Linked DNA regions of Homo sapiens: regions 1, 2, 3 and 5 are each linked to region 4. Evidence: fine-mapped expression QTL. A gene starts in region 4. Each other region holds a variant in brackets. All regions are shown on one strand. Distances are from middle to middle. Region 1 holds the start of ENDOU (endonuclease, poly(U) specific). Region 2 has its middle 130 kb from the start of RPAP3. Region 3 overlaps RPAP3 (RNA polymerase II associated protein 3). Region 4 holds the start of RAPGEF3 (Rap guanine nucleotide exchange factor 3). Region 5 has its middle 85 kb from the start of RPAP3.

Region 1 (6,411 bases), 35 kb after region 4:
GGTGCATGCCTATAATCCCAGCTACTCGGGAGGCTGAGGCATGAGAATTGCTTGAGCTGGGGAGATGGAGGTTGCAGTGAGCCGAGATCACACTGCTGCACTCCAGCCTGGGCGACAGAGAGAGAGATTCCATCTCAAAATATATACATACATTGCACTTCCTGTGTGAGCCCCTTGCAAAGTTTGCTTGCCCTAGGCTTGTCCTTCTCTCTACCCCTGAGTCCCTATGTTTGGACTCCTCTCTACACAGCAACAGGCTGGGGGATTCTCTTTAACCCACCAGCAACTGTTCAACCTGGCGCATGGGCAGGAAAACTCGAGATTAAAGTCTGAGAACCTGGAAGGGATTGTCAGATCCAACCCCATCATTTCAGATGAGAAAGCTGAAGACCAGCGAGAGGAAGAAACTTCTCCTGTTAAAGCACACTGGATGAAGACGTGCTCCACTCCCAACCTCCAGAAAAAAATCACTGATAGAGTGGCCTCCACTGTTCACCAATTTTGCCTTTTTATATGATAGTTTTCTTTCCTGAGAGGGTTGAGAATCCCCATGCAGTGCTCTTTCTGGCAAGGGCATCATACTTGGCAGATTTTACCTTTATTATCGGGGAAAACTGGACAGTCACGGGGAGCTGCTCCCCTTCTTTTGGACTTGGAAACAAAAGAACCTCACTGGGGAGGAGTTCCTGAGGAGAGGAGTGTAAGTTGGGGTGAAGGGAGTGAAACCCTGGGCTCCCAGGGGAAGAAGAGTGGGCCTTCGGCTGCCTTTAAGAGGCCTCTTGCCCCTCCCCTGCCTCATAAGGAATCTGAAACGTTTAAACCCCAGAGGCTGACTCAGTAAGAGTCATTTGCATAATATTTTAGAGTGATTTAGCCATGCGCTCGACATGTGGCTGATTTAGCTATGCTGGGCTTGGTGGTCATAAGAATAGCACTGGTTCTGACCGACACATCCTCTATCTCTCTGTCCAATGACCCCAACCCTTGCTTGGGCACTTACTGTTTGTCAAATTTGGACCAATCACCTTACTGTGTGCCAGTGTCATGCTAAGCTCCAGGAATTTGAAGATGAATCCAACCTGTGGCCCCTTGGAAAGTCAGGTCTGAGACTTGGAAGTAGGTGTCTGTTTGGTGGGGATCACCCAAAGATCAGCCCATGGGTGTCCCTAATTTGGACAAAGAACCCTCCAAACTGGACCCATCTTGGTGTGCCTGCCTGCATGACCTATTTTTTAAGCTGCAAACAGCTAGCATTACCTGTTCTCAACATCTGGCATTACCTACCTTCTTAGTCACCTTCCCTCAGGCTTCAAACAGCTGTAGGGCCCCACCTCCTATCCATCTAGGGTCCCTCCCTCCCCTTTTTCTTCCTGAAAGGATCTGGAGACACCAGCTCCACAAGTCCTGGTGTCTTTAAAAGGATCAGCTTGAGGAATAAGGCTCGTCTGAGAGCTGTGACATTCATCTGACTCTAGTGAAAGTCCAACAGCCACTCCCTTTTTGGCCTCCAACTGGGCACCATGAGGGCCTGCATCTCCCTGGTATTGGCCGTGCTGTGTGGCCTGGCCTGGGCTGGTAAGTCACTATCTGGCGGGCATGGGATTGCTGGTGGGGCGGGATCTTGCCTAAAGAAGCAGAGAGTTGGAGAACTTGGTAGAGGGCAGGGCCGTGGGACAAGGGAGGGTGAGCTCTGTCCTAAAGCCGCAGAGCACTTTTGGGTTGTCCTTGTCTGAGGGTGCAGGCGTTGGTCCCGGAATGGACTGGACTATGTGGAGAGAGTTGCAGGGCTGATGGTCTGATTTCATGGAATTCCCTTCTTGACACCTTGGAGGATCAGCCCCAAATATCCCTTAGTCCAGCCTGACTTTTGATCTCCCCAAGATTTTGTTGTCTGGGGCCACTGTAAGGAATAAAGCTAGGGCTGGTGTCCATGGGGTCTGAGTGGCCTGGCTGCCCTTGGTCACTCCTTCCACTGCCTGGTGACAGGTGAGGTTGTTTAGGGTGTGATGTTACTTTGGGTAGAGCCTTAGGAGGTGGGCAGGCTTAGGAGGAAACTGAAAGGACCTTTGACCAGGAGGTGGGCCTCGTCCTATCTGGGGCTGTACAGGGGTCAGAGGAATGGATCTCTGTTGCAGTGTTAGGAGAATTGAAGAATACAGAAGGGACCTGGCCCACAGTTATGAGAGGTCCAGGGGATGGGACTGGCAGAGGAACAGGACCATGTTCCTGTTTAGTAACTGTGCAAAATGCTGGTGCTGATGGGTTAATTGGTAGCTAGTGGGTGGGTGGGAAGGAGTGCCAAGGGAGGGGCTGAGCTGAGGAGTGTGGGGAGAATCCTCCTCTGCCCACAGGAGAAAGAATCCTTCCACTGGGTTGCTCCTGTGTAGGACTGTGGAAAGGATTAAATGAAATAATGTATGAGAAGCACCTGGTGCAAAGTGAGATCTCAGTGAACTGGAAATTCGCTATGATTATGACTATAAATTTTCTTGGGAGAAACTTCCGCTTGGGGTCATTTCCAACTGGGTTGTGGAAAGGAGACCCTTATGGGATTTCTAAGTGGAAAACCCCTGGAAGAGGAAGTTGTGCCTCCCAACCATGGATGAGATAGTGCATCTTACCAGAAACCAGCTCTGCCTGGGCCCTAGTGGGTGGAGAGGCAGTGGGAGAGCATGAGGGTGGGCCTGGGAGCCACCAGCCTCAGCCCTGTTGGTTGGGAGGAAGGTGGAACTTGGGGGCTTAATGTGTAGGGGTGGCCAGCGGGCTTGGCATAT[T/G]CCAGCCTTAGGGAAGGAGAGCAACTCTGGATATTTGGTCCCTGGGGGGCAGAGGTAGCAGTGGCTTTAGAAGTGCAGGTGGAGCTCTTGCTGCTAGGTCGGAGGGCAGTATCTGCTTTGGCTGTGGGATCGATGGGGAAGTGAGGTCAAGTGTATGAGGCTTCCTAAGGTGGCAGGGAAGAGGCTCTGCACTTGTTGATACTATCCCAACATCTCAGAACTGAGAGGCAAGAATATGAATCACATGGGGAATCACTGACAGCCTCAGGTCCTCCTTTATGAGCTGGATGTCTGTGGAGAACCTTGGTTGATTTTTTTGGTTGTGAATGGAGGCAGGAAGCTAGTCCAAGGGGTGAGGCTTCTTGGTTGACTAGGTCTCCATGGAAACAGCATCTGGGGCCTTCTAACGGTACAGATGTGTAGGATGTCCCAGTCATCAGAGGGGCTGAGCACCAGTGTACAGGGACACTGTGTCCACCCAGGCTTGGGACCAAGCTTCCTTGATGGCCAGTATGGATAGGGAGTGGCTGTTCTGGCATATTGAAGTCTTAGAAAGTGCAGAGAAATTGAGCATTTCTTGGGGGAATGGAGGGAGAATCTGAACCCGAGAGAGGAAAGGCTCAGATGAAGAAAGGCAGAGAGTCAGAGAGGTGAGGCAGAGGAACAAGAGGCACAGGTTACTACAGCAGTGATTCAGGCACCTGGCTTGGGGAGCAAGGCTTACTCAGAGTGTTGGTGTTAATGGTGCAGTGTGGGGATGCTGGAGTGAGTTGTTAGGGTGACTAGTTACTCATCAGAGTGTCCCCAGAATGTCACAGCAAAGTGCCTATGAGGAAAAGTTCCTCCCACCCCTGCACTCCACTGTCAAATCCCAAGGTCACCTTGAAGCAGACTAAGTGCACAGAGAAATGTGAGAAAGTGCTGGCATGGGGCTCTTGCTGGAGACAAAGTTCTTGAGCAGAGATGAAAAAGCCCACTCAGCTTGGGCCGGCGGGGGTGCTCTCCTGCACGTCCAGCTGACTGCTCGCTTGCAACCCTTCTCAACTGGTGCCAGCTGCTGGAATGAAGTGAATTCTTTCCCTGGACTCTGCTGATTTGGCCCATTAAAAACATTGCCCTGATTTGCCTGAATTCTCTCCCTTTGGATTCTGGGTGTACTGCCAGGCTGACTGAGCAGGGAGCTGATGGGCTGAAAATTTCTCCTTAAGGTCTTTGCATTCAGGCTCCAAGGGAGCATCATTTAACATTCAAGAGGAGTTCCTGCCGGCTTGAAGGAACAAGTGGCCTTGGGCCTGGTCTCTTTTAGGGACTGGAAACCTGCCTTCCTGCCCACCTTGGAGGCCTGACAATGTGAAGTTGTCTGAGGACCCGGGTTAACCTTGACCCAATGCCTCTCTGATGTAAAGAATACAGACCTGTAGTGATGAAGTCAGCCAGGAAACCAGCAACACAGATGTGCTGACAACCCAGCCCAAGGGATGGCCCTGTTGAAACCCTGGGAGAGTGTCAGCTAGATTAAGTGTGTCGACGGGGCCACAACACAGGGAAGACTGCTCCAGCCAGTCTGAACACTTGTCACTTGGAAGATGGGCATGAAATATTGCCACCGTTTATTCACCTAACAAATACTTCTATGGTACTACTATGTGTCACTTGCTGTCCTAAGTGCTTTACATATATTAACTCATTTAATTCTTACAAATATTCTATGAGATAGGCTCCATTATCATCCCACTTTTACAGATACGAAAACCAACGCACAGAAGTTCAAATAACTTGCCCAAGATCACATAGCTAGAAAGCAGTAGAACCAGAATTCCAGCCTCAAGCAGTTTGGCGCCAGAGTCTAGGTTCTTGACCTCTCTGCTATGCTGTCCCTCATTAGACAAAGTATCAACCTTAATCCCAGAATCCAATACTAGGGACTGGTAACCAAACCCAACCTCTAATATTTAAGCTCTAACCCACTCCAGGCTTAAATTAAGATACTACACCTGTATTGAATCATAACCAGAACCAAGCCCCCAAACAAAACAGGGATTATTCATCTTTTTCTCATCCTGACACATTCCTCAACCCCGAATGTCATCTTAAGTCTATTCCTATTCCTTACCCAAATATCAATACAAAATTGTTAATTTATCAACTAATTTAACTCAAGCCCAAATCCTAACTGTAGTTCTTAACCTAACTAACCCCAACCCTGGTCCAAATTAGGTTTCAGTTTCCTCACTGATACAAATTCTGATGCTGATGGTAACTCTGACTCTGATCTTGACATTCTCTGTAACCCACAGTATGACCTCTGAACCCAGCGTTCGTGAAATCCAAACCTCAGGAACCTCAAATCGAACAAAGACTCTGTTATCACCCTTAAAGCCCAGAGTGGATAGTGGGTTTCCACTGTTCCTTCAAAATGTCTTGTCTTATGTCCCTTGCGACCAAAAGCTTGCTTCTGCAAACCATTTGGCTGCAGTGGGGGATGTGGTCTGTGGTTACATAATAGAATGCTATGCCAGAGCCCAATTCTCACCCGCACCCGCCTCATTCCCCACCCTGAGCATAAATTCATCTGAATGTACTCCAAAGACGGGAAAGAACAGAAAGATGTGACACAGGGGGAAAGAGCGTGCAGAGAAGACCAGAAGGGGAGACAAGAGCAAAGAAGCAAATAACATAACAGGGATGGAATAAGAGCCAGCGGAGGGTCAGGGGCAGGGGACATCCCTGGGGCAGCATGACATGACAGGTGAAGGGGGCCTGTGGGCTACACCCAGTTCACAGACCTCTTTCTTTGGTGTGCTTAAAGTGTTACAAGGTTGGAAAATTTCACATAAAAATGAAGATTTATCTTGAAAAAAAAAGGGAAGGCTCTGGCAACACTGAGCACACATCCCAACATGGCCACAATCGGCTAGAGCTGAGCATCAGCTGCAAATTTCAGATGGAGCATTGCTCTCAAGTTTGTCACGGTCTCCATTTCTTCCTACTGCCTCATACCCTGCTTCTTTACTTGCTTATGTTATGGGCCTAACCCAAATAGGGATTTGGGTTTGTGATCCTGGTCTCTTTGATGAGCCTTGAAATATTTGGTGGGTGTTGGGTGGTGGGGAGGAGGCTTATGTTGTGCATGGGAGGCTGTGGATGTACTTCTCCTTTGCAGAGAGTAATGCCCTTCCCTGCCAGGTACACTCCTGCCCTGGTCTGTGAACCCTCCTGCAGGAGGCACCCTGGGGAGAACAGGGTCTCCATAGAGCTGAGTTGGTGACCTTTACTGCCCATAGGAAAAATAGAATCCTGTGCATCTCGATGTAATGAGAAATTTAACCGGGACGCTGCCTGCCAGTGTGACCGCCGGTGTCTCTGGCATGGGAACTGCTGTGAAGACTATGAACATCTGTGTACTGGTGAGCCTCCTTGTGAGACGAAGGCATGTCCAGCCTGTCTAAGGGGCCACTGGCCTGGGTGTCCAGCAGGCCAGAGCAGCGTTCAGGACTCACAGGGGCTCTAAGGGTCTGGACAGAAAGCACTGAGGGACAGAGGCAGGGTCAGGAATTTGGCCACCACTTTTCTCAGGTTTTCTAGGATGCCCCCAACTTAAAATACAGTAGATGTCATTTACCTAGAATTTCTGTCT
Region 2 (6,411 bases), 180 kb after region 4:
ACTATATGACAGTAGCCATCTTTGGGTCAGCATGAATGACCTCCTTGTGGATTCATAGTTTTTGGTATTCAGAGAAATCAGCTTTTTACACGACAGTGAGAGTTGGAATCAACTGGCACATCTTTTGATGATGCAGCTAATATTGTCTGGTGGCATAAATCAGGGCTGTGTTCTGTGCCCCCTTTTTACACATTAAACATTAATAATTTGAAACTGACTTTGATTAATTTCTCCTGGCTATGGAAAAATAGGCAAATAAGTCTCCTTCTGTATACCAATATTAATTTCACAGCCTGGAAGTGGCCTCTGTGGGTGGTTCATCATGTGATGAGACCACTACCAGAACGATTAGTTTTAGATAAACGATTTTACAATTAAAATAATTATTGTGGTGGGTGTTCCCCAAATGTCACGGTCCTAAATTTAATAATTCCATTCAACCAGCTAATTTTTTTAGTTATTTAAAGCAACAGTATCCCAACTGTTTTAACCCATTCATGCCTGAGGTTGCAATTTTTTGAATTTTTGCAATCAGATCTTGGTGATAACCTTGAGCAGTAGGATATAAATAACTCCCACATGCTTAGAGCCTTCCATTGTTGGAATGCTAAGCATAAATTACCTACCTCATTAGTGAAAGGAAAGTGTCAATATGCTCTCCCAATCTATATGGATACATTAATAAATGATACACAGTGCTATTATATTAGTATATTATTTATATTATAAAGATACATAAAGTAGCAATTTAAATAAATGAGATAAAAATGAAATAAATGATTTTTCTTATTTTATTTATTAATAGAACAATATCACTCTATTATGATGATGAATATTCTGGCTGCTTCATTTTTAAAATCTCTTGCTAATCTTGATGGCTTCATGCTCTCATTAGCTAATATCATAGGCAAAATACACACTCAAAGCGAGGATCAAAATTAATAAGAGTGGAAGTAAATCCATATTTTAAATAGCTTTTTGTTAATTTCAGATTTGAGGTTAATTAGATTTGAGGTTGACTTTCTGTCAGATATGATCAGATCACTGTTTTCCTCATTAAGACGCTGATAAAAAGCTTGTCTGTTCTAAGAATTGGAGAAGTATGGCTCTGCCAGACAAGCTTTCTGTTTGCTTGAGCTTGTATTACTGATACTACCTTTAATCCTCTACATTCATGAGAGCTCATTTCATTAAAACTGGATGTTATATTTCATACATCCACTTAACTAGACCCTTCTGAATCTAATATGTGCCCATTTGGTGACAGTGAACAAAAATGTGCCAACCTTCTGCATAGGGAACTTCCACTTTTCCCTCAAGATACCCAGAGAACTGCAAGGGGCAACCTGGGCAGGTAACCATCTTGCAAGTTGAGCAGGTGGGGTGCCTCTGTGTCAACTGGAATATGTAAGCAGTATTGAAGTTTACCTTCTTTCATACTGTTGCATATAAATATAGGGATAACTTCTAATATTTTTCATGCATACTAGTCTCACATGGCCCTTGTGGTGTACTGACTCCATTTGGAGAAATATTTGTTACTAACTCATTCTGGGAAGTTCACTGGGAACCGGTGCTGCTCATGAATGGATGTCCCAAACTCTGGGCATCTACATAATACGGGCACAGGTTTGCTTCACCTATATACTATCTATACTTTTATCTACTTAATATTGGTAACTCTATGGACTTACTTTTAAAACTTAAATTTATTTAAAAAGGAAACACCACGTTCCTGACAGGGATGGAGAAATCCATACTATTTTCCTTCTTCTTCGTCCATGAACATCAGTTATTCTTACCATGGCCTGAACACAGTCCCTGCTGTTGACCTGTGGCTGAGCTCTCCTGACCTTGCAGCGGAGGTCAAACCGATTCTTGCACTGCCCACTGCAATACCCAGAAATAACCAGCACTCAGGAGGTGAGGTGACACCTTGGACAGGAAGGACGTTGGATTGGCACCTGCTGAAGAGCTTCTCAGCAGGTATTATGCTGATGGTTGGGAAGGTAGGTGTGTGCTGGCCAGCTTTGTACCAGCCCAGATCAGCTTGTGCACAACCTTTGGGAAACAGCTCTTTTTATTTTTATTTATTTATTTATTTTGAGATGGAGTATTGCTCTGTCACCCAGGCTGGAGTGCAGCGGCGCGATCTCGGCTCACTGCAACCTCCACCTCCTGGGTTCAAGCAATTCTCCTGCCTCAGCCTCCCGAGTAGCTGGGACTACAGGCGCCCGCCACCACGCCCAGCTAATTTTTTGTATTTTTAGTAGAGACGGGTTTTCACTGTGTTAGCCAGAATGGTCTCGATCTCCTGACCTTGTGATCCACCTGCCTCAGCCTCCCAATGTGCTGGGATTACAGGCGTGAGTCACCACGCCTGGTCTATTTTATTTCTAGGAAATATAGAGGCAAATATAAGACTCCAGTATAGTCATGATATTGCCCTTATGGCAACATTTGCATATTTGGGATAGTCCCTTACCACTCCTAGGCCTAGGCCTTGATTGTCTCCTTCCAATTATATTTTTCCTAGTTCTTGTTTATAGTATACTGTTATTTTTGTGTTTGTATTCTTGTGTCAAGCTATCTCAAAGCCTTGTAGAACAAGGCAAAGGATATAAATAAATAAAATATCTCACATGACCTTCTCTGCCCCACATGTCATTACTGGCTTCATCTCTAGTGAGCAGATTAAATCTGGTATTTTGTGAAGGACAGCTCCAAAACAGCTGTGTCAGTGACGTCTTGTTATATTAGATCTGCTTTATGATACTTCGTGATTTATGAAATGCTGCACAGAAACCATCTCATTTAATAAGCATGATAACCCTGTGAAAAGGGCAGACTCGAAGAATTTGGTAGATGTGTCAAAGTTCGGTTCTGAGCCCAAGTCTCAAGAACTCACACTTTCTGTTTCTCTCTCTCTTCTCATTCTCATTTTCTTCTCCCTCTTTCCTTATCTTTCTCTCTCTTATTCCCTTACT[T/G]TCCTCACTCTTCATCTTCTCCCCTCCTTTCCTCTCCCATCTCTTTTCTCTCTCTCCTCCTCCCCTGACCCCCGCTGCTGCTTCTCTGCTATTATGAGGACAATCCAGGACTAGCCGACTTGGGGCTGAGATAAACTGCATGAAGTAGAATCATGTTGTCACAGCGGAGGCCACTGGCCCCCTTGCAACTCATCAGCTGACCACAGATGGATGGCCAAGGCCCACTGAGATCAGTTGAGCCTGGCTCAGATCAGCAGACCCACCTAGCCACATATTTGTGAGAAATAGTAAGTAGTTATTATTTTAAGCCATTATGTTTTGGGGTGGTTCATTACACGGCAATTGCCACCTGATACAGAGACTCAGAGACTTAGGTTACGTGACAGAATTGGTGGCAGAGCTAGGAGTAGAGTCAGGCTGCTGCTTTTTTTTGTTTTTTAAATTTGTTTTAAATTTTTGTGGCTACATAGTAGGTGTATATATTTATGGGTACATGAGATGTTTTGATACAGGCATGTAATATGTAATAATCACATCGAGGAAAATGGGCTATCCATCCCCTAGGCTGCTGCTTATTCTTGGTCAAGGTGTTTGATACAATGCTCTGCTACTGAACTCATCTGCCTGTCTTCCCCTTGACCAGCTGACCTCTTGTCCTCTGAAAAGTAACCTCTGGTGCATTCTGTCCCTCAGGGAGTCGATTGTGGCTACATGGGTGGATGGATGAGCATTCTTCGGCAAAGAAGATCTATTTAAATTTTGTAAAATGAATCTCTTTTTTAGAAGAAATATCAAACAGTCTTTGGTTGTTCTGTAACTATCTGGCATCTCCATCTGCCTGTTTTTTACATAAAATTTTCATAAACCAAAATCAAATGTACTTTATTTGATTTTTCATCTTAGTAGCAGTAATATGAGACCCTACACATTATCATCCAGAGGTCATGAGATCCATCAGAGTAATTTCCCGACATTGTTTTGACTTTCTGGGAAGCCTGAGGGAATGTTTTGAGATGGATCTCCTTCCCACCCCACTTTGGCTTGATGCTTCACTTCTGATTATTGTGGTGCGAAGATCTAAACCTACGGCTTACACTAGGCTTGATTTCTAAGGTCACGTTCATCTGCAGGCTTTGTAAAATCTCCTAACAACATAGTAAGAAAGGTCACTTAACATAGGACAATTAACATGTTCCCTCCCTACGAATGAAGTTTGGTGTAAAAAGAAGCAAAAATAGTGCCAGAAATAAATTACTGGCTTATAAACATGTTTATTAAATGCATCATACTTGGAGCACCAGATGTGAGAAAGACAAAGGCTAAATGCCAGCAGCAGGGTTGCTTAGTAAATTATTTGGCTTGTTGCTGGTAATGAGAGGCTGTAGTTGGTGGGAGCTGCTGTGAAATTACATGTTTCTGCTGTTTTGTTCCTCAACGAACCATGATCGACTCTAGGAATTGTTTGGATAAGCTTTCCCTCTGGTGTTGAAAGAAAAAATAATTCTCTTTAAAAGAAAATCTTGCTAAGCCCAAATATTTTTTCTGAACTCACAATTTATTTAGGTCTTCATCAATAAAAGTGATTAATAAATAAATTTATCAAATATAATTTGATTGCCTTTAATTCTCCCCTTTCTTCATACCTTACAAAAAAAATACTGTTGATTTATGCTGAAGACTTAGACTATACAGAAAGTAGAACCTAGAAAGATGATACTGTCTGTTAGCATTTCCAAATCATATTTCTGCTGCAGAAATGGGCAAATCTTACAATAAGGCTGCTGATTTGATTAGGCAGACTAATAATTACACACCGTAGCAACACCCTCCTGCACAATCTCCTATTCACAGATAGGGCATTCTTCCTATTTCTTCTTTAGAAAAGTATTTTCTGGCTCAGTTGAGAAGAATAAGTCATTAAAAGCTCCAGGAAACAATTCTGTGTGGAGTGTCCATTTAAGCAAGCAGCTGTCCTTTGAAAATTGTCTTATTGTTTGAGCCTCCCAATTTTGCAGCCAGGAGGTTATATAAAATCAATTAAGCCAGAGGATCTCTAGGTAATCAGCTCTGAGAACTGTCGCCCCAGCTGCGATTATTTGCCAACGGTGGCAGCTTACTCCTTTATTCCTGTGTTGCTCGGCCCCCACTTTAGCCTTCACCTCCTGGCAGCACTGTGCCTCCCTACCCCCCGCCCCTCTCGGCTTCTTTCCTTCACCACTCCTGTTGGTGCAGCCCAGGCTGCTGTCTCCCTGGGTCTCACCCCAGCTCCTGCTTTCAAAGGATGCAAGGAAAATGCCCTGCTGGGTTAAGAGGTTGTGGCTTTCAGTTCCTTCTCACCAGCAGGTAGGAAGCTGGAAGGAGGTACCACAAATTGCAGCCGTTGCTATGGCAACCAGAGCTGCTCCTCAGAAAAGCTGTTCCAGAGGAAAAGCTCCTTGAGTCTTTTGATCTATCTTTCTGTGTCTTCCCCTTTCTTCAGCCCTTATGAGGCACCTCAAGTGATTATCTCTCCTAAGAACCCCATCTGCCTCCCCCGCCACAAGGAAGTCATTCCACAACATGAGGATTTGACAACAGAGGAGCCTTCCCGCACTACTCCCCACAGAGGCATTGTCCTTGAATAAGACATACTGCAATCAGAAGGACATGCCATATCAGAAAGTCTAATATTATAATTCTATGCATCATTTGGCTGGGTGGGGAAAGCATTTTGAGGGGTAGGGTAGGGTAGGGTAGAGAACTTGTTCATTCATTCATTGAGTGCTTATTGAATACTCACCAGGGAGTACCAGGCAAAATGCTAAGTACTGGGGTTTCAGAGACAAATATGGCAATGTTGCTACCTCACAGTCTGGTGGAGAGGCAGATATAAAGAGAAATGTTCACAATAAGGCATTGCACGTGTTTGATAAAAGTCTATCTGGGGCATCTAGGGCATAAGGGAGGGCATGTGTGGGCAGCTGGGAAAGCCACTTAATGGAAGTGTCATGAGAGAGAAAGGGTGTGTGGTAAGTGCACACATTACTTTGGAGGACTCTTAAATCTTCTCTTGAATCCAATATCTTAGCTTCATTTATGGCTAGTTGGGCAACACCTTGGAAGATCCAGAGAACCTTTGTGAAATATAATGTAAATATGAGGCAAAGGCTGCTGGTGGTCTCCCTCTTATGAGTCCCTGGAAGGTGGTGATGATAGCCCTGGAAGCAGGGCTGGTGGGACTGGGAATGGTGGGGGGTGGGGGGCATTCAGAGACGCTCATGGAAAGAAAGCCTTCGCTAAAACATTCAGCTAGACCTCGGGGAGGTGAGAAGGGGAATCACTGGAGGCCAGTGTGAGAGGAGCAGTCACAGAGCCCCTGGCTACAGAGCTCCTGGGTGTGTGGTGTTCAGGAGTTCAGGAACCTGCAACTGCGTGGGGACACTGA
Region 3 (6,226 bases), 96 kb after region 4:
TCTTTACAAAAAATACAAAAATGAGTTGGTTGCAGTGGCGTGCATCTGTAGTCCCAGCTACTAGGGGGGCTGAGGTGGGAGAATCGTTTCAGCACGGAAGGTTGAGGCTGCAGTGAGCCATGATTGTGGCACTGCGTTCCAACCTAGGCAACAGAGTGAGACTCTGTCTCAAATAAATAGTTAAATAAAAATAAAAAAATATATATTAAAATATATATATGTATATTTTAATAGCGAGGGTTTAAACCAAAAGTTTTGGTTTTAGCTTTAGTTAACCAGAAATGTTCCTTGAAATCCCTGAAAAATGTTACTGTTTCTTATTACTGTTTTGACCTCATCTTTTACCACTATTTTTTCAACCACTCTGCCCCATTATAGTGGTTTTATATAGCTTTTAATATACCAAACTGTCAGGCGGGTGCAGTGGCTCACGCCTGTAATTGCAGCACTTTGGGAGGCCGAGGCAGGTGGATCACCTGAAGTCAAGAGCTCAAGACCAGGCTGGCCAACATGATGCAACCCTGTCTCTACTAAAAATACAAAAAAAAAAAAAGAAAGAAAAAAATTAGCTGGGCGTGGTGGCAGACACCTGTAATCCCAGCTACTTGGGAGGCTCAGGCAGGAGAATCAATCGCTTGAATCCAGGAGGCATAGGTTGCAGTGAGCCGAGATTGCACCATTGCACTCCAGCCTGGGCAACAAGAGTGAAACTCTGTCTCAAAAAAAAAAAAAAAAAATTACCAAACTGCCAAACTTATTTTGGCCTCGAGGACTTTGGCTGTTCTCTCAACGTAGAATATCTTCCTACATATCTTCACTTGTGTGCTTCTTCATTTGGTTTTCACCTATCACCACTTCAAAGATGTCTTTCTTCACTGACCCCCCATGAACCTCTCTCTTCTTACCCTGCTTTATTTCTCTTCGTAATATATTACTAGCTGACAGTGGTTCATGTGTATGTTTATTATATCTCCCTCTCTAATAGAATGAAAGCTCCATGACAGCAGGAACTTTGTCTACCTCGTTCACTGGGCCTCAGTGCTAGCGCATAATAACCCCTCAGTGTCAGTGTGTTGAATGAATGAATTTACTGTTACTCTAATGTGATAAGTTCAAGGTATCCGAGAATGCAGGTGGGCTCTTCAGACTGGCTGACCAATAGTACTGTCTTGATGGGGTTTCCACTGTCTGCTAAGTTAAACATGGAAAGCGCTTAGAATGGTTCTGGCATGCAACCAGGTATTCAGTAAATACTTAGCTGTTGTTATATTTTATTATTGCCATTATCATTAATAACTGTTAGCTAGTTCTCCAGTTTTAATGTTGAGAAGCATGAACTATAAACAGTGTTTTCCTAATGTTGAGTGTCGACCGATCAGTGGTAGTAAATATGATTTTTTTGCGATTCATAATCTTATTTATTTATTTATTTATTTTTTGAGATGGAGTCTCGCTCTGTCGCCCAGGCTGGAGTGCAGTGGCTCGATCTCAGCTCACTGCAAGCTCCGCCTCCTGGGTTCACGCCATTCTCCTGCCTCAGCCTCCTGAGTAGCTGGGACTACAGGCGCCCGCCATCACTCGCGGCTAATTTTTTTGTATTTTTAGTAGAGACGGGGTTTCACCGTGTTAGCCAGGATGGTCTCGATCTCCTGACCTCATGATCCGCCTGCCTCGGCCTCCCAAAGTGCTGGGATTACAGGCGTGAACCACCACGCCTGGCCCATGATCTTATTTTTAACATGTAGTAGTTTTAATTTTGTAATATAAAAATATTTAACTGTCCCATCAAGTGTGATTTCATCAGTGTCATTGCTGTTTTTCATTTACAGTAGTGATGTAAAGTTTTCTTTTAAAATAAAATGATTTAGGTTTGAAAAA[CAG/G]TTTAGTTGAAATAAAAATATTAAGTAAATAAAAATACACTTGTTACACAGATAGGGTAAACATTTTTAAGGTAGTACAGAATGAATTAAGTTTAATCTGCAAGATTAATATCATTGAGAATGCAGGGCAAATTTTATACTGCTAAAGCAAAATATTCCTGAAAGAACCATTGTTGGATTGCTATATAATTTTGTGTTCTCAGATTGGCTTTTTAAATATCTGAATTAGAATTTATAAACCTATGTATTGCTTTAAAATGTAAAATGTTTTTGACAAATAGATTGCTCCTTTTAATTTACATTTTGCTTGGTTTTTAAAAAATGAGATTAAAATGGAGAATTTCTTTTTCTTTTTCAGTTGCACGTGCATTATTTAATCACATAGACAAGTCAGGATTGAAGGATAGTTCTGTCGAAGAACTCAAGAAAAGATACGGTGGTTGATTTCCATTTTTGCTGAAATAATTGTTTTTGACTTTCATATGTAAATTTTTTCTACTGAAAGTGTTTTGCTTTTTAAGAAAATGAAATTATATAGCAGGAAAGGACTATCTTTGAACATAAGTTAATTAACTATAAGGTGAATTGTGATTTAACTAGTGAGAATTGTATTCAAGTGAACTCTGTTTTTCTGAAAATAAAAATATAAACAATGAGATACATTTGTAAGGATCAGCATTTTATTTTATGAGTCATTTTAAATGTTAAATTTAGATACATTCTTCAGTGACCCATAAATGTAACATTATTTTTATATTTTCATGAGTTTTTGTAACCACTTGCCAAAGCTGCTTCATTAGCATATGAATAATTACCTTTGTAAAGAGGAAGTTAAATAGATAGTGAGATCCTTTCTTTATAAAACTTTTAAATGTTATTGTGCCAATTCACTAACATGAAGTTATTTAGTTGCAGGGTATGTATGTATTTTTAGTATTTATGTTGAAAGAAAGAAGACTTTTAACTAGACTTTCAAACTAGGTTAATTGAAGTATCACAGTATTCTTACATTTTAATGCCATAGGGTTTTTTCCCTTAAGATATCCATGTTACATACCAGTTAAGGACAGATAATCTAATGCAAGGTGTAAAAATGTAAAAATTAGTAATGTTTAAAGTACTAATTAGCATATAGCCCATATGTATTTGTTGGATGTGAGTGTAGCGTTTGTAAACTTTTGAAAGTAGGGCTAGAACTCTGCTCATCCCTGTACTCTGCATAGTACCTAGCACAGACGTTTGCACATAGTTAGGTGCTCAACTGATACTTATAAAATTTAATTGAATTTGACGCAAGAATCATATTAAGTAAATGTTTAAAGTAGCAGCCTAGCAAATTTTTGGGCATGGTGTAAGCACTGGTAAAACCAGTTAATTTTAGAGACTATCAAGTTGTTAAAAAATATTAGGACACCATCCTTTAATTGTTATCAGCATCAATAAGACAGTTCAGTTTACAATTTTATACGATATTGTGGTTAATTTTTATTGCCATTATACATATTACTATTCTTATGAATTGTTTGAGAAGTAATCATAATTTATTTACAAAGATAATTTCTTCAGATTGTGGTATAAATTATTGAGATATGTTTGTAATTTGGATAGTTTGAATGCTTTAAAATACACTTGATAGAGTTTATTAACTTTGTTTATTGCTAAATGTATTATGATATATAAACAGGCAATTGAATTTAGCTTTTTATCTGCTATGATCTGAATGTTTATATCCCCCACAAATTCATATGTTGAAATCCTAACCCTGAAGGCGATGGTCTTCGGAGGTGGGGCCTTTGGGAAGTGATTGGGTCAAGAGGGCAGGCCCTTGTAAAAGAGGCCCCAGAGAGCTTGTTCACCAATTACACCATGTAAGGACACATAAGAAGGCACCATCTACGAACAAGAAGGTGGGCCTTCACCAGACACCAGAGACCAGAATCTACTGGCATCTTCATCTTGGACTCCCCATCCTCCAGAACTGTAAGAAATAAATTTCTGTTTTTATTAATGTAAGCTACCCAGTTTGATATTTTATTATAGCAACCCGAATGGACTACGGTATGATCCTTTGAAGAAACTTACAAGGTAGTCAGGGCAGGTAATGTTATTGTCATTCTTAACATAAGAAAAGGAGGCTCAGAGGGTTAATGTTCTCTGCATGATTATAGAGCTAAAAATTGGCCAAAACAGTTCAGAACGTGCTGTCTTCTCTTAATGTAGAGCTATTTGAACTACTTCCAGCTGCAGTTTTTATGTTGTGTTACCTGTGTAGAGACTGTTAACTGAAGAAGTACAGATCACAAGATTTACTATAGAATTTGAATTTTAAAAAATTTCTGATGTTAGCCTGATTTCTCCCCAGAGACATTTTCATGTAGTGATTTAAGACCAGAGGCTCTGGATTCAGACTTCTTGAGTTTGAATTCTGGCTCCATCTGGCTTTAGGGCCTTGGACAAGTTACTTTTCTATTCTTTGTTTTTGAAATCTGTAGAATGGGTATAAGTGAGATTGAATGAATGCACACATTTTGTTTTTGGAGCAGGGCTGGATGTATAGTAAGCTACTGTTACTATTATTATTACAATTACCAACATTTCCTAAAAGTGATTAGAATAAAGAACAGTCTTTAGGGGCTGTCATATTGTTGCCTTATTGCAAAATAGCATAGTGGTTAATAAAGTCATTTTTGGGTCAAATAACCTGCGTATACAACCTATTGCACTCAACTAGCTTGTGAATTTGGACATACTGCTTAGCACCTCTAAGCTTCCGTTTCCTCTCATATAAAATAGAATATTAGTAAATGCCTACCTCAAAGATTTTTAGAAAGGCTAATACTTATAAGTATTAGCACATTAATGCCTGTCACATAGTGCTCAGTCATTTTTATTAATAATAGTAATATTATTGCCTTAAAGGTATAAAAGCAGTATTTTCCCAAGTGGTTTCTTTCTGGAAATGTAGTTATTTACTGTTAATTGTATCTTTTGACTTGATAGCAACATTTACATCATAATTATTCTTGAATTGTTGGCAGAAGCACCATGCCCGTCATTTATTGGCTGCCTCCGACTCTGGTTTTAGTTACACTCAATTTAATAAATTGATGGGGCATATCCAAGTCCTCACCATTTTAACAATTTGTGCTAACGCATTTGAAAAAAATTTTACTTCCAACCTCTAAATCCATTATCTCTGTTAACAGGAGGCATTTCTGAACACAGTACCAAGGCTCATTTTACCTTTTTACAATGCTTTCTTAATGTTTGACCTTTATCAGAGTTATGTTTAAAGAAACATTAAAAATTTAATGTTAATGAAACTTGTTTGATTCATTCATTTAATTAATTTAACAAATATTTGTTGAATCTACATATAATGCCAGGCACTGCTAGGCACTGAAAATACAAAAATGAACAAAGTAAACATGGATTCTTTCCTCACAAAACTTACAACGAAGTGGGAGGTGGAATGGGATGGTGGGGATACAAATAAAGAGGTACAGCGTAATAAATGCTAAACAGGTAATACTAAGGGATCATGGGAAATACCAGGAATAGCAGATGCAAAAGACAAGACAAGTTTGAGAAAACTTAAGTTTAATTTTTAGCACAGAGTGGGAACTGGATTGTGGTAAGAAATGAGGCTGGTGAAGACAGAAGGGTTGAGATTCTAGAGGACATTTGAACTTCATCCTGAGGGTACTGTGGAACTAGTGATAGTTTATATAGGAGGGTGATTCTGAAATTTGTATTTTATAAAATTTACTTTGGCTACTATGGGAAGAACAGTTGCCTGGGGACATTAGAGACAGGGGAACTTGTCAGAGGACTTGGGGTACCTAAGGCAAGAGATTATGGTATCCTGAACAAGAGTACTAGCCGTGAGGATGGAGAGAAGTGACCAGAATGGAGAAATATTTGGGAAGTAGAATGGGCAAGATTTGGCAGTAGATTCAGGGCCCCCACATTCAGGGCTTAACTCCAAGGAGCACCCTTTACATTGTGGTCTGCGTGAATGGCATCCCTGGAACATAATGTGAATGCTTCCTAACTTGTACAATTTGGTGATCCTGTGTGGGCTGGGAAGCAAGTTGAGAAGCAGAAGGAAGCATTAATGGTCATGCCCAGATTTTTTTCCCCTAGGGCAGTGCTTTCATTCACTAAAATATAAACCACAGCGGGTGACACCATATGTGGAACTGGAAGGTTTGGTTGAGTGGCTGAGAGAAAGGTCCAATTTGGGATCTGTTGGATTTGTGATCCCTTTGGTCATTGAAATAGATTAGGGATGGTGATTTGGGTTTGGACATTAAAAAGCATTTAGGTGAAGTCTCAGGATTAGA
Region 4 (6,411 bases):
TGGAATAACAAAAATAACAACCTTATCTCATAGGGTTGTTGTGACAATTCAGTCAGTGAATATATACAAAGTATCAAGAACAGGGCCTGGTGCATGTTGACTATTCTTATTATTATTTATCTGTCTTAACACACCTGCCAAGCATTTAATGACAGTCAGAGGAGGGTGGAGGCGGTACCAGGACATGGCATGATTGTTACCATCTTGCTTGCATGTGTTCCTCAGACACATTCCCAGTCCTCTGCCCCTTCTAGGCCTCAGCCTTGATCAAATATCTGCTGAGCAGTAATTCTACTGTCGGGTCCCCATCCAGGGATCCTGAGAAGGCAAAAACCTGCCCCGTCATCTGCTTTGATGGCAGGCTGGGGGCCTTGCCTGTTAGAGGTAGGACAAGCTAGAAATGGGACACATAAAAGATCTACTCCCTATGATCTCCCCAGGCTAGGAGCCAATAGGTAATCACCCCAGGTCCTCTTCTCAATCTCCCCAGAGAGGGGGAATGAAAAAGAAATGGAAAAAAGAAAGGCAAGAGTAGTGTTGAAGGGGAACATAGGTGGGGGAGTGGGTTGGGACAGTTTCATTTTCACCGATTTGAGTGATCCTTGGCTCCCTGAGGCTCCCCCACACCTCAACACAAACATATTCGATTTCCCCCCTGCCTTTTTTTTTTTTTTTTGAGATGGAGTTTCGCTCTGTCGCCCAGGCTGGAGTTCAGTGGCATGATCTTGACTCACTGCAACCTTCGCCTCCCGGGTTGAAAGAATTCTCCTGCCTCAGCCTCCTGAGTAGCTGGGATTCCAGGCGCACGCCACCACGCCTGGCTAATTTTTGTATTTTTAGTAGAGACAGGGTTTCACCATGTTGGTCAGGCTAGTCTTGAACTCCTGACCTCATGATTCACCCCCACCTCAGCCTCCCAAGGTGTTGGGATTACAGGCGTGAGCCATCGCACCCGGCCTCAATTTTCCTTTTTTGAGTAGACTCTCCTAGGCAGTCTAGTCTACATTAGAAGAATAGAATACATACAGAGTATACGCAGTATACCATGGTGAGTACGTGGAGACAGACAACCTGGATTCATGCCCCAGCTCCACCATTTACTAGCTGTGTGACTTTGGCAATTTCCTTAATATCCCTGAGCCTCAGTTTCCCCATCTGTGACGTGAGGATAACAGAAGTACATACCTCACAGGATCGTGGCAGGGATTAAACACATGGAAAGCACTTGAAAGAGTGCCCGCACATGATTAGATTTTGTAGCTCTGCTGAAATGTATACAAGTGTCCTGCCTCACTCCCCAGCATCTTCCACCTGCCCAGAGTAAGGGCAGCAAGAATAGGAAATAGGGGACCCCTTTGTGACCCAACTGCCAGTCTCAGGAAGCCTTCCTGCAAGAACTTCTAGGCCAGGGCACTGGCCCCAGCAACCCGAAACTCATGACTCCATCCCCCTAACTCTTCCCCATGCATACCTGTGACTCCCAACTTGTCATCCTTTCCTGTCAGTTTCCAGGTTGCTCTTCCTTCTTCCAAATTACCAGAACTCCGTTGAATGGATTTGGGTCTGAGGTCAGATTCATTCTCAGGCTTTCCTCCTTCCCCGGAGAGGCATTTAAAACTCCACCAGCGTTTCTTAATGTGTGGACACAGCAGATGACCTGGGGTGTTTGTTCCAAATACAGATTTTCCATTTCATGCCAATAGGATTGAATATGAATTGCTGGGGACGGAGCCTGCATTTTAGTAAGCTTCTGGGAAACATTTTTTATACATGTATACATTAAAAATGGGATTTTAATCACAATTAAAATTTCTCTCCCCACTTTCAAGAAAATAATAATTGGTGGAGGATGGGGGCTTGGCATCCCAAAATTGGGAGTATAGGCTTCTTAGAGCTACCTCTTCCCAGTCTTCTCCTCACTTTCAAGAAAATAATCATGGTGGAGGATGCGGGCTTGGCATCCCAAAATTGGGGTATAGGCTTTTTAGAGATACTTCTTCCCAGTCTGGGCTGGCTCAACAGCAAAGGGAAAAGGGAAGAGAAGGGGCAAAAAGTCCTAAAAAGCTGGGGGTGGGGCGTTCACCTCCTTCCAAACCCTCATTATCGTCCTGAATTACGGGTCGCTGTCCCCGGCCACTGTCTCTCCACCCTCTCAGGAGTGGGGCGAAGAGGCCCGCGCTGGGCCATTTGCACAGTGGTGGAAACTGAGGCCCAGGGAGGCGTGGAGCCTCGGTAGCAAGCCTGCCTAGCAGGGCGCTGGAATGCCCGGTCTCCGCCTCAACCTACCCGGCCACCAGGGAGCGCGCGGTAGGGGGCGTGGTACTCGAACACCTTCTGCTCCCCTGGAAGCTCTGCCACAACCCCAATCTCCTCTTAGGGCCCCTACCCGTTCTGGAGAGCAGTCCTTCCTCTCCAGCCTCAGTTTCCTCAACTGCTCCCGGTGTGTGTGTGCTGGGGCAGGGGGCAGTGGGGCGTGGGTCTGGGAACGGAACTGTGGGAGGCAAGGCAGCGGGATTCCCCGCGGGAAAGCCGCCTATTCCCTCCCCCGGGCGGCTGGAGACCCTGAACCGAAACAGGAGGCAGACACCCCCAGCCGGGAAGCGGCCCCAGCCCGGATTTCCCTCCCGGGTGAGGCCGCAGTGACTCACCCCCTCCCCGCTCTCCCCGGTTTCCTTGTTTGCATTTCTCCTCCCGGCCACGTGGCGGCCAGTGCAGCCACTCACCGCCGGATCCCTGACACCCCGGCCGTTGCGGCCTCCTCCACACACTTCGGGGCCGCTCCTGCCCCCTGGGGATACTCTGGGCTCAGGCGGATGTCCACTCTGGTACCCCCGGGTGCGGACTCCAAAGCCTGCCAGTGCCGGCCCCCTTCCCCTACGCATTCCTCTACCGTAAGGCAGGGCGCCTCCACCCCGCCCCCTCCGCCAGTCCTGGGGAGGGGAAGGGGGCGGGCAGCGCAGGGGGTGTGACAGCTCCCGCCCGGACCGGTGCCAGCGCAGCCTTGCTTCAGCGCCCGGTGCCAGCTGGCTCCTTCGTCTGAGACGAAGGCGCAGGCTCGGGGCTCCCTGTCGCCGGTGGCTGGGTGGCGTCCCCCCACCACGCCCCCACCCCTCTACTCACCCAAGAGGAGCCTCTCCACCGAGCCCTGCATCCTGCTGCCCTGGCAGCCAGTCCAGCTAGGCACTGGCCCAGTTCACTGTACCTGGACTTACCCACTGGCACCCTCCGGATCCCCTTATCAAAGCTGATGGGGGTCGCTGGGGACCCCCCAGCCTTTTGCTAGAGCCTGCACGGCTGTGCGAGCTTGAAAAGAAACATGAAGGTGGGTAAGGTGGGGTCAGGGTTGAGGAGGAGCAGGAGAGGGCGGGAGAGGAAGCTGACACGGTGGGGAGTTTGGGTGGGAGAGGGAGGGTTAGTCAGGGCTGAGGAGGAGAGGAGAAGGGTTTAAGCCGAAGCTGCATTTCTGGGAGACCTAGTGAATCTATAGCTTCATACTGGGAGGTAGTGGAGATCCCTGCAGGGGCATGGGCAGTGAGATGGGACAGAATTCCAAAGAGGACTAAGAAGGGCCTGATCTTTTCCAAGAGCCAGCTGGAGACCCCTAAGTGCGCCAGACCGGCAGGCCCCAGTGAAGGTCTTCCTGTTCCTCCCCCCAGCTCCTGGCAGGGTTGCAGCACCTCCGCCTGACCAGTCCAGAGGACTCTAAGGAAGTAGTTCTGCCTGGGGCAGTTGTACTGTGGCCCAGCCGCCCCAGTCGTGTCCCATGGCTGTCCACTTTCCTCCCCGTGTCACAGGTGGGCTGGCCAGGTGAGAGCTGCTGGCAGGTGGGCCTGGCTGTGGAGGATAGCCCAGCTCTGGGAGCACCGCGGGTGGGAGCCCTCCCTGACGTGGTGCCGGAGGGGACACTACTCAACATGGTGTTGAGAAGGATGCACCGGCCCCGAAGCTGCTCCTACCAGCTGCTGCTGGAGCACCAGCGTCCGAGCTGCATCCAGGGGCTGCGCTGGGTGAGTACCTTTCACCTGCCCAGGTGCCAGGGCCAGTACCAGAGCTAGAGGGGGGCCTAGATCATGGCTTGGCATGCTGCTGGTGGCCCAGCTTGCTCTGGGGGTGTACAGTGGTACAGCTGCCGTGGACACTGGGTCAGGAAGCTTGTCTGCAGTGTGCGTGGGTGGCTCACACAGCTGCAACGTGTGTGTGTCTGTGTGTGTGTTCTGCCCAAATGTCTCTGTTTGGGCATGGGGGGAAGGGGAAAGGGATTTGTTGTTTATCTGTCACCTCAGTGAGCCGGCATTGAGTTAGGTACTTGTGTGTTCTTTCCAGGTGGAGGTGGGAGGTATGGGGGCCGGGTCAATGGGTTGGAGTGAGGTAAGCTTGGTTACAGTTCTGGGTGCATCACCGTGGCAACATTCTCCTTTAGTGAGTTACTGAACTGTGCTAATTCTGCGTTTTGGTCTTAGGGTGAGGTGATCATGTGGACACTGCTTGGTACCTGCCTTTGGGGGGCTCAGGGAAGGATTCTGAGACATTTGGAGAATCTGAGATCACCAAAGTGCCCTTTGCTAGTGAGAAACATCTCTGGACCTGAAAGAATGAAGGAGAGAGCAGGGAGGGGAAAGAATGGTGGGATTTGGGAGGCAAGATAATGGCTGTACTATCCAAATCAGCAGAGAAGCTATCCCCAACCATCCAGACTAAATAGAGTAGCTTAGCTTGAGATTCAGTTATGTCTCCACTGCGTGTGTCCACCCAGGTTTCGCTATGTTGCCTAGGTAGGTCTTGAACTCCTAGGCCCAAGCAATCCACCTGCCTTGGCCTCCCAAAGTGCTGGTATTACAGGCGTGACCCACTGCGCTTGGCCGGGAGAGTTCATTTCTTTTTTCTTTTCTTTCTTTTTTTTTTTTTTAACCAGAGTCTTCCTCTGTCACCAGGCTGGAGTGCAGTGAAGCAATCTTGGCTCACTACAGCCTCTGCCTCCCAGGTTCAAGTGATTCTCCTGCCTCAGCTTCCTGAGTAGCTGGGGCTACAGGTGTGCGCCACCACGCCCAGCTAATTTTTGTATTTTTAGTAGAGATGGGGTTTCACCATATTGGCCAGGATGGTCTTGATCGCTTGACCTCGTGATCTGCCCACCTCGCCCTCCCAAAGCACTGGGATTACAAGCATGAGCCATTGCGCCTAGCCGAGAGTTCACTTCTTATTGGCAAGTCCTTTTGAGTGGAATAACCACCACCCTCTCCCTCCTTCCCCCTACCTTGCCCAACTGCCATTTACAGTGAGGCTGAGTTGAAAAAACTGAGACCTACCAAGATGAGGGGCTCCTCTTTGCAATCAGAATTGAGAGGAGAGTCCACATGTCAGTCCTGGTAGAGCTGTTCTCTACTAGGGTCTTCCTTATCATGAGCCTGGGTCCTCCTCCGCTACCCCTCTGGCTCTCCGGCTCTCCGCTCTCCGGGTCACTGGCTGTAGCTATTGCCTGGAGCCAGTGGGCTGGAACCCTCCCTCCCTCCTTCCCTCTTGGGCTATAATTATTTGTGCATTTCCTGTCCCCTTCCCAGCTTGTGGAAGCAAGGTAGGGGGTAGGGAGAAGGTCAGGTGCCAGGACAATAGGTCACTGGAGGATCTCCTGGGACCTGAAGTCTGGGAGGGAGTGGAGGAGGCCACCAAGCTGTCTCCTGACTCTCCACAGCCCCCAGAAATGAAGGGCTGGTGTGCAGGGGAAGGCCAGAAAGGTGGGGGTAAAGGTTGCTGGAGTGTAAATGGGGTCAAAGGCACCAAAACAAGGCCTTTCCGTGCCAGGTGGGCGTTGGTGACTAGAGGGAACTTAGATTTTTAGTGTTTAGAGGCAGGCGGCCACTCCCTCTTCTGATGACCAACTTTGGGGACTGGGGTGGGGAGGTTTCATTCCATCATGCCTATATTTGAGAGGCTCTGGGTACCTGTGAAGCTGTACTTCTTACCTCTTGATGATGCCTTTAGCCCAGGGAAGGCTTCCGTGAGGGAATGAGTGCCAGCTGTGAGCATGCACGCCCATGGTGAAGGGGTGGAGCCCGAGTCCCAGGAAGACAGCACTGCCAGTTATTGAGGCCAGACCTCCCTCTTCGAAAGCCAAGGGGAAAACCCATCAACCTCCCAGAGAAGAAGTCTGAAGACAGCTCTTTCTGTTCCTACCTAGACCAGGACAAGAGAAAATGAAAGCGGGTTACAGTAGGAGGGCTTGCAGTTAGATACAGACTAAGATAAGACTTAACAGCTATTGCAAAAGTGACACTGGAATGGGATGGAAGAACATCTTTGGAAAATAAGAGGGGGAGGTGAGATCTTGTCTGATGTCCGGGGGCAGGGGCAAGATCAGAGTGACCTGTGGTGGGTTCTACTAGCTCAGGGAAGTCTGAGATGATTCTCTTTGTG
Region 5 (6,411 bases), 140 kb after region 4:
GACTTCAGACTGCCGTGCTGGCAGTTAGAATTTCAAGCCAGTGGTTCTTAGCTTGCAGGGCTCTGTGGGATTGGGACCCCACTGAGCGAGACCACTTGGCTCCCTTGCTTCAGCCCCCTGTCCAGGGGAATTAACGTTTCTATCTTGCTGGGGTTCCAGTCATTTTTGGGGTACAAAAAAAAAAACTTCCTGCAGCTAGCTCGGTGTCTGCTCAAGCAGCTGCCCAGTTTTGTGCTTGAAACCCAGGGTCCAGGTGGTATAGGCACACGAGGGAGTCTTCTTGTCTGTGGATTGCAAAAACTGTGGGAAAAGCCTAGTATCCAGGCCGAGCAGCACAGTCCCTCATGGCTTCCCTTGGCTGGGAAAGGGAGGCCCCCTGCTTCTTGCACTTCCTGGGTGAGGCGATGCCCCACCTTGCTTCTGCTTGCCCTCCGTGGGCTGCACCCATTGCCTAATCAGGCCCAGTGAGATGAACAGGGTATTTCAGTTGGAAATGCAGAAATCACCCACCTTCTGCATTGGTCGTGCTGGAAGCTGCAGGCTGGAGCTGTTCCTATTCGGCCATCTTGCCAGATCCCCTCACAACATTTATTAAAGTCAGCATGAATGTGAATCTGGCTGAAGAACTGTGAATAGAGTTTCTTTTCTGAGTTAATGAATTTTTTTTATCTCCAAGAGTCAATAATTATGTTTGGTCTGCCTAAGATTTGCACTTCCCAAGCTTTAGGTGGTTTTTCCTCTTCATTTGAATGAACTATGATAGCCTCTTCATTTGAATGAACTATGATAGCATCATATGGAAGTGGGGATAATGGCATGGTAAACTCATTCATAACCCCAGTTGGCTTGTACTGTATTTGGTAAAGACTTTCTTACTTTTTGCCAATATGACTACATGGCATAAAATCCCTTAGCTAGGAATTCTTTGCTGTGGATTAAACTTTAAATATTGCTTGGAAAGGAAACATAAAATTGATGTTATTGAATATTATTAATAACACCTTCATGAGAAATATTTTTTGTGAGTATCTTCTCTCTGTGCTATTTAATGTCCTTAGAGAACAAAGGGAGTGGGGCCTTTGGATTTGGGGAGAAGGATGGGAAGGAGGAGTGCTGAATAGATGCCAGAAGTGAGTTAGGTGCTCTGGTGCTTTATGCATTTTATCTTCTCAACACTATTCTCTTAATTTTACAGAATCTGGCTCACTGAGACACATAGAAGTTGAGTAGTTTGACTGAGGTTGCACTGCTAATTGTAGTAAAACTAATTCAAAAGCCAGATCTGCTTCCAACTTGGAGTGCCAGTGGAGGTGGGAGCATGGTAGGGAAAAAATGGAAAAGATATAAGGCAATTAAAGTTCATTGAGTTCCCAGTCACACTTTTTTTCAGAAACAGGGTCTTGCTTTGTCACCTAGGGTGGAGTGCAGTGGTGCCATCATAGCTCACTGCATCCTTGAACTTCTGGGTTCAAGCCATCCTCCTGCTTCAGCCTCCAGAATAGCTGGGACAACAGATGTACACCACAATGCTTGGCTAATTAAAAAAAAAATTTTTTTTTTTGGTAGTGCTGGGGTCTTGCTATGTTGCCTAGGTTCACAGTCACACTTTGGCCCTGAGACCTGTCTCTCTGGTCCAGGTGTTGTCTCTTTGACCTTATCGATGTGCTATCTCTCTGTGGCACTTGGAGGGATAGAAGCATTATCTAAACAGGCTGATAAAATTATTGGTAAAATAAGGAAGTGTCAGGCAACCATTTAAAATGGCCTGCATGCTTGCTTCCTATCATGAATCTGTGGCTTGGAGATCATCAGAAACTCATTTTTATCACATTGACATATCATAAGCACTATGAAGGAGGGCAAAACATGAGCCAGACAAACTGTGTTAGGTATAGACTGGCTTAAGCGTGTCATCCCTTGTCCCTGAGAAGGCTGGTGTGATTCTTTGCCAAGTTTCCTTCCTGTTCATGCTTGGATCCCTTGGAAGTAGCAAGCATGACTCTTCAGAATTTGTCACCCAGAAATGAGGGCTACAGTCCCCAGGGATATTGCCTCCTATGTGTTATATACATTTTGTTCTTCAGAGTTTGAAAAGGATCATGCACCCGGCCAAGCAAGGAAGCTATTGTGCAGATTTTGAGCAGGGACACACACACACACACACACACACACACAGCAATGGCATGACCATCTTCTACTCCTTATATGTAACATAATAAACTTTGACTTGCTGTTCACAGTTCTGCAGTATCTCTGGGGAGTCTAGCCACCCACTCAGTGTGCAGCAGAGGGGGAAGGAAGGACTCTGCATCTTGGGCTTTAGATCAGGTTCTTAGTCCTCTACAGGGTACATCATTCTGTAACTTTTTCTTTTGAGCTGAAAGCTGGGTATTGTTCACTCTTTCATTTCTTCATGCAGCAAACATTTTATTCAGTGACAATTAACATATACCTTGAACACATCACTAAGTGCTATAGATTCAGTGGTAAAGGAGACAACATTGGCTTACGGTTACACTGAAAATAAAACCTCATCTCCAGCATCAGGTGGAATATCCTCCTTGTTCATTTTGCTCCGGCCACATGAGCCTCTTTCTATTTCTTAAACATGGCTCAGGCCCTTGCCTGGGATTCTCTTTCCCCAGATCTTCACATGACTCTTTCTTTCTTAACTTGCAGGTTTCAGCTTAAATGTTATCTCCTAAGGAAGATCTTCCCCAGTCACTGAGGTTGAAGTCACACTCGCCCTCTCAGCCACACACCTGAACCTAGTCATTCTCTAGCCAGCATATCTGCTTATTTTATTGCAATCTTAGTATTTACCACTACCTGATTTATCTTTTTCATTGATTGGGTCACTTGTTTCTTGTCTGTTTTCCCATGTGCAGAATGTTAGCTTCTTACAAACAGCAACGTTGTCTGCTTACTGTACTCCTAACACTTAGAATAGCTTATAGTAGTCTATAGTAGTTGCTCAAAATATTTGTTGGATGGATGAATGAATGACACTTTTCCTGCCTTTGTACTTACAGTCTACAGAAGTGGTATAGCATCAGAGCTTAGACTTAAGAGTCA[GATGGCCAGGGGTT/T]TGAGTCAAGCAATGGGGCTAATGACTCAAAGTCCCCAAACTTCAGATTCATAATCTTTAAAAAGGGGATAATTATAGCGCCCACTTCACAGGGTTGATGTGAAGATTAAATGAGATAATTCATCTAAATTACTTGGCATTGGGTTTGCAACATAGTCAATGACAGTATATGTTGTGTTTTATTATTACTGGGAGTGAATTTAATGAGAATACAATAAAATGTAATAAATGGCATCACAGTACCAGAACAATCATACCCAAGTTTCCCTTGCCCTGAGTAGCTCTTGTCCACTTAGCTATAGCCTGAGAATCAGACTCTTCATTACAGTGGAGACAGCAGCCCTAGAGCAGTGAGCACCTGTGGCTAGGGATGCGATGGTGACTTTAATAATCTGATGTGGTGGAGAATCATTTTCTCTCTATTTTGAGTCCAGGTCATGTATTTGAAGTAACATCCTAGCCCTTCCATCTGCTGTCAGTTCTGATTTCATGCTTTTTTCTGCACACTCTGTCTACATTAAATCTCTACTGGGGAGCCCTCTGGCTTTTAGATCCTATTTTTAGAATAGTAGTTAAGACTTAGATCTCCAGAAAGGGAGGCCCCAGGGCTCCTGCTGTGGTCTTGAGTCCCCCCAGGCTCTGCCCGCTCTGCATACTCAGCCAGACCTGCATGGCTCTGAGGGTTACTGTTTTTTTTTTTTGCCTGCCACGGGGAAATTGTTCAACAAGACACCAATGGTGGCTTAATGCCAAGCACTGGTCCACCAGTAATGGTGGGACTTCCCCAACAGGCTCTGAAGCCAGAGTCCCAAAGTCAGCATTGAGTTTCTGCCGTTTATGCTTGTCTGGCTCTTTTTTGGATGAGTAGATAGATGCCCAACAGAGAATGACATGCAAATTAGAGTTGCAAGAGGGAAGAAGTGAACCTGGAAGCTCAGAGTCATGGACTGTGTTGAAGATATTGGGAAAGACCAGCTATCAACAGTCCTGGACCCTGTTGCTATTTTCAGTAACACTTGTTGGTAGGGTTGGGGGTGGAGAACTGAGGGTGCTTTTGTAGAGATCTTTCTTGCAGGGCTGGAGGGACCTGACAGGTGAGGAAGTATGGTGGGATCAAAGGATTGTGGCTTGGTTTTCTCTTGGAGCACTCATATTAGGATGTCCACTGCCACCCCTGAGCCTGGCTCCTAGGGTACAGGGATTAGGCTGTGAAAAACACAGGCCCATGAGTGGATATAAGCCCTTTCCTTTGCTTCCCCTCAGTCCAGCTTAGACAAGCTGGCAGTTTCAGGAGGACTTCACCAAATTCTAGGGGCAAATGTAAAATAAAGATATTAGAGGCAGAAAAGTTCAGCATACATGATCCAGGTCTCTGATGCCACCCTGGATAGCTCTCTCACCGGATTCCCAGACCTATGCCTATCTTCTGTGTCCTCCTGAGTGCCCCAATCCAGTTCCTACACTGCCTCCATGTGGAGGACAATTTCTGTCTTCCCTGATGCTGGAATCTGGTTTCCTAGATGTCAGCACTGATTTCCCGGACACTTAAGGTTCTTCAAGGTCAGGGCCAAGGAAAAATGCTAATTCTGCCTCTCACCTAGGGCCTTCCCCTCAGTTCTAGATTCTGGTCTGAATATGAGTTTTTCTCCAGCCACCCAAGAAGATGGTGTATTTCAGGTGAGACCCTTTCTCTACTTTGAGAAAGCAGCTTTGCTCTTAACAGGTCCAAGGATAAAGCGATAGATAAGAACGCCTATAAGAACTACCCACTTAAAGTTTTCAGAGGAATTCACTGACAGACGATGCTCCAATGGAGCAAATGTGAAGAGTGAAAGCCTAGAAAGTTTGGAAACCTTTCCCTCTTCTTCTCTGTCTTTCTCAGAGTATCTCTTTTTTGGCTTCATACATCATATTCGCACATGTAATGCATTTATTGATTGTCACTAATTATGCCCATGAGCTTTTATAAGCTTCTTAGCAAGTGAGTATCTTAATCTGCTTGGGCTACTGGACAAAAATACCATAAACTGGGTAGCTTATAAACAATAGAAACTTATTTCTGACAGTTCTGGAGCCTGGAAGTCCAGGATCAAGATGCCAGCAGATTCAGTGTCTGGTTCATAGACAGCCGTCTTCTCTGTGAGTCCTCACATGGTGGCAGGGGCAAAGGTGCTTACTGGGCACTAATTCCGTTCATGTGCCCAAGAGTGCTCCACCTTCATGACCTAATCTCCTCCAAATACCATCACATTACAGATTAGGAGGTAACATATGAATTTTGGCGGGACACAAACATTCAGTCCGTAGCAGTGGGCTTTCCACATTGTATAGCACGTGAGGAGTACCATCTTTCATTACAACAGGCGGAAACTTGTGGTGGTGGGTGTGGGTGAGGGCGGAAGGTATTTCTTCAACTGAAAGTTGAAGGGTTGTGCTGAACTGGATGTGAACCTTTTCACTCTTAAAGTCTTCTTTCATATCTCAGTGGGCCTGTTATTTTTCAATCAGACATTTGCATTTAATAAAGCATTTGCTTTCTCACTTTTTTTTTCCATTCAGGACCTGGTCAGGCATTCATTATTATGACACAACCAGTGTTACTGCATGGAGGTGGTACAATTCCAGTCCTAAGCAAAGAAACTTCTACATATTAATTAACCTATGCTCTGCTACCACATGTGATGTTTTCATGTTTAAAATAGCAATGTATCCTTCTTAGAGATCTAAAGGGATACCGAGTAAGGTGGTTGGCAGAGGAATTAGTTGATGTGAACTGAAATGGGTTGGTATGGGCTGCTGTAGTGGAGGGATGGTGGAGATATGAAGTCAACATTTATGGCAACAGTTGGGAATTTTGGAGAGGAACAAGGGAAGAAGGAAGGCATTGCAGGCAGGGTAATATGGTGGGCTTGTGACTGCCCATGCTGAGGAGCTTTGGAAGATGGAGGTAAAAACAGAATGGGCAGACTGGACATCTTCATGTGCCAAACCATGGAGACTAAACTATATTTTGTAGACAAGGGAGAGCTGCTGGAGGAATTTGAGCTAGGAAGTAATCTGATGAGCCTGGTTTCAGGAAACGGGTCTGGCTACGTAGGATGATTATATCAATTTTAGTTGCAGAAATGTATAGAGCAGTGTATTAAATGGAGAAACCATAACATATGATTTGTTGACAAAAGTATAACTCTTATATTGTGTTGTGTCAGGGGAATATGTTAAGATACTAATGAATTTTTTTCTCACCCAGAATTTCCTTCTGTCTCTTCTGCATTCAAGCAATTAGTTGGTCTTGTGCTTCTTACCCCAGGGAAGAGAGTGTG

Evidence for each region. PIP is the estimated chance that this variant, and not a neighbour inherited with it, causes the effect.
Region 1: its variant is fine-mapped to the expression of RAPGEF3 in whole blood (TOPMed, PIP above 0.99).
Region 2: its variant is fine-mapped to the expression of RAPGEF3 in whole blood (TOPMed, PIP above 0.99).
Region 3: its variant is fine-mapped to the expression of RAPGEF3 in whole blood (TOPMed, PIP above 0.99).
Region 5: its variant is fine-mapped to the expression of RAPGEF3 in whole blood (TOPMed, PIP above 0.99).

The regions. Positions count from the first base shown.
Region 1 is chr12:47,720,523-47,726,933 of GRCh38, reverse strand. It overlaps ENDOU (endonuclease, poly(U) specific), which reads left to right and starts at 1,444. Exons shown (of 10, transcript NM_001172439.2): 1 at 1,444-1,575; 2 at 6,059-6,181. The coding sequence starts at 1,521. The region is part of intron 3 of RPAP3-DT (RPAP3 divergent transcript); the gene reads right to left. RefSeq lists a silencer at 810-929. The variant T/G (reference allele first, on the strand shown) is at 2,775.
Region 2 is chr12:47,575,341-47,581,751 of GRCh38, reverse strand. No RefSeq gene overlaps it. Among named protein-coding and RNA genes, the nearest start is that of RPAP3, 130 kb to the left of the region's middle. The variant T/G (reference allele first, on the strand shown) is at 2,988.
Region 3 is chr12:47,659,603-47,665,828 of GRCh38, reverse strand. RPAP3 (RNA polymerase II associated protein 3) reads left to right here. Exons shown (of 17, transcript NM_024604.3): 17 at 2,239-4,580. The coding sequence ends at 2,324. Among named protein-coding and RNA genes, the nearest start is that of RPAP3, 43 kb to the left of the region's middle. The variant CAG/G (reference allele first, on the strand shown) is at 1,879.
Region 4 is chr12:47,755,462-47,761,872 of GRCh38, reverse strand. RAPGEF3 (Rap guanine nucleotide exchange factor 3) reads left to right here and starts at 2,993. Exons shown (of 28, transcript NM_001098531.4): 1 at 2,993-3,322; 2 at 3,795-4,007. The coding sequence starts at 3,317. It also overlaps a transcript of SLC48A1 not described here. RefSeq lists enhancers at 2,445-3,113, 3,114-3,782, 5,996-6,065, 6,096-6,265 and a silencer at 2,824-3,173.
Region 5 is chr12:47,618,021-47,624,431 of GRCh38, reverse strand. No RefSeq gene overlaps it. Among named protein-coding and RNA genes, the nearest start is that of RPAP3, 85 kb to the left of the region's middle. The variant GATGGCCAGGGGTT/T (reference allele first, on the strand shown) is at 3,076.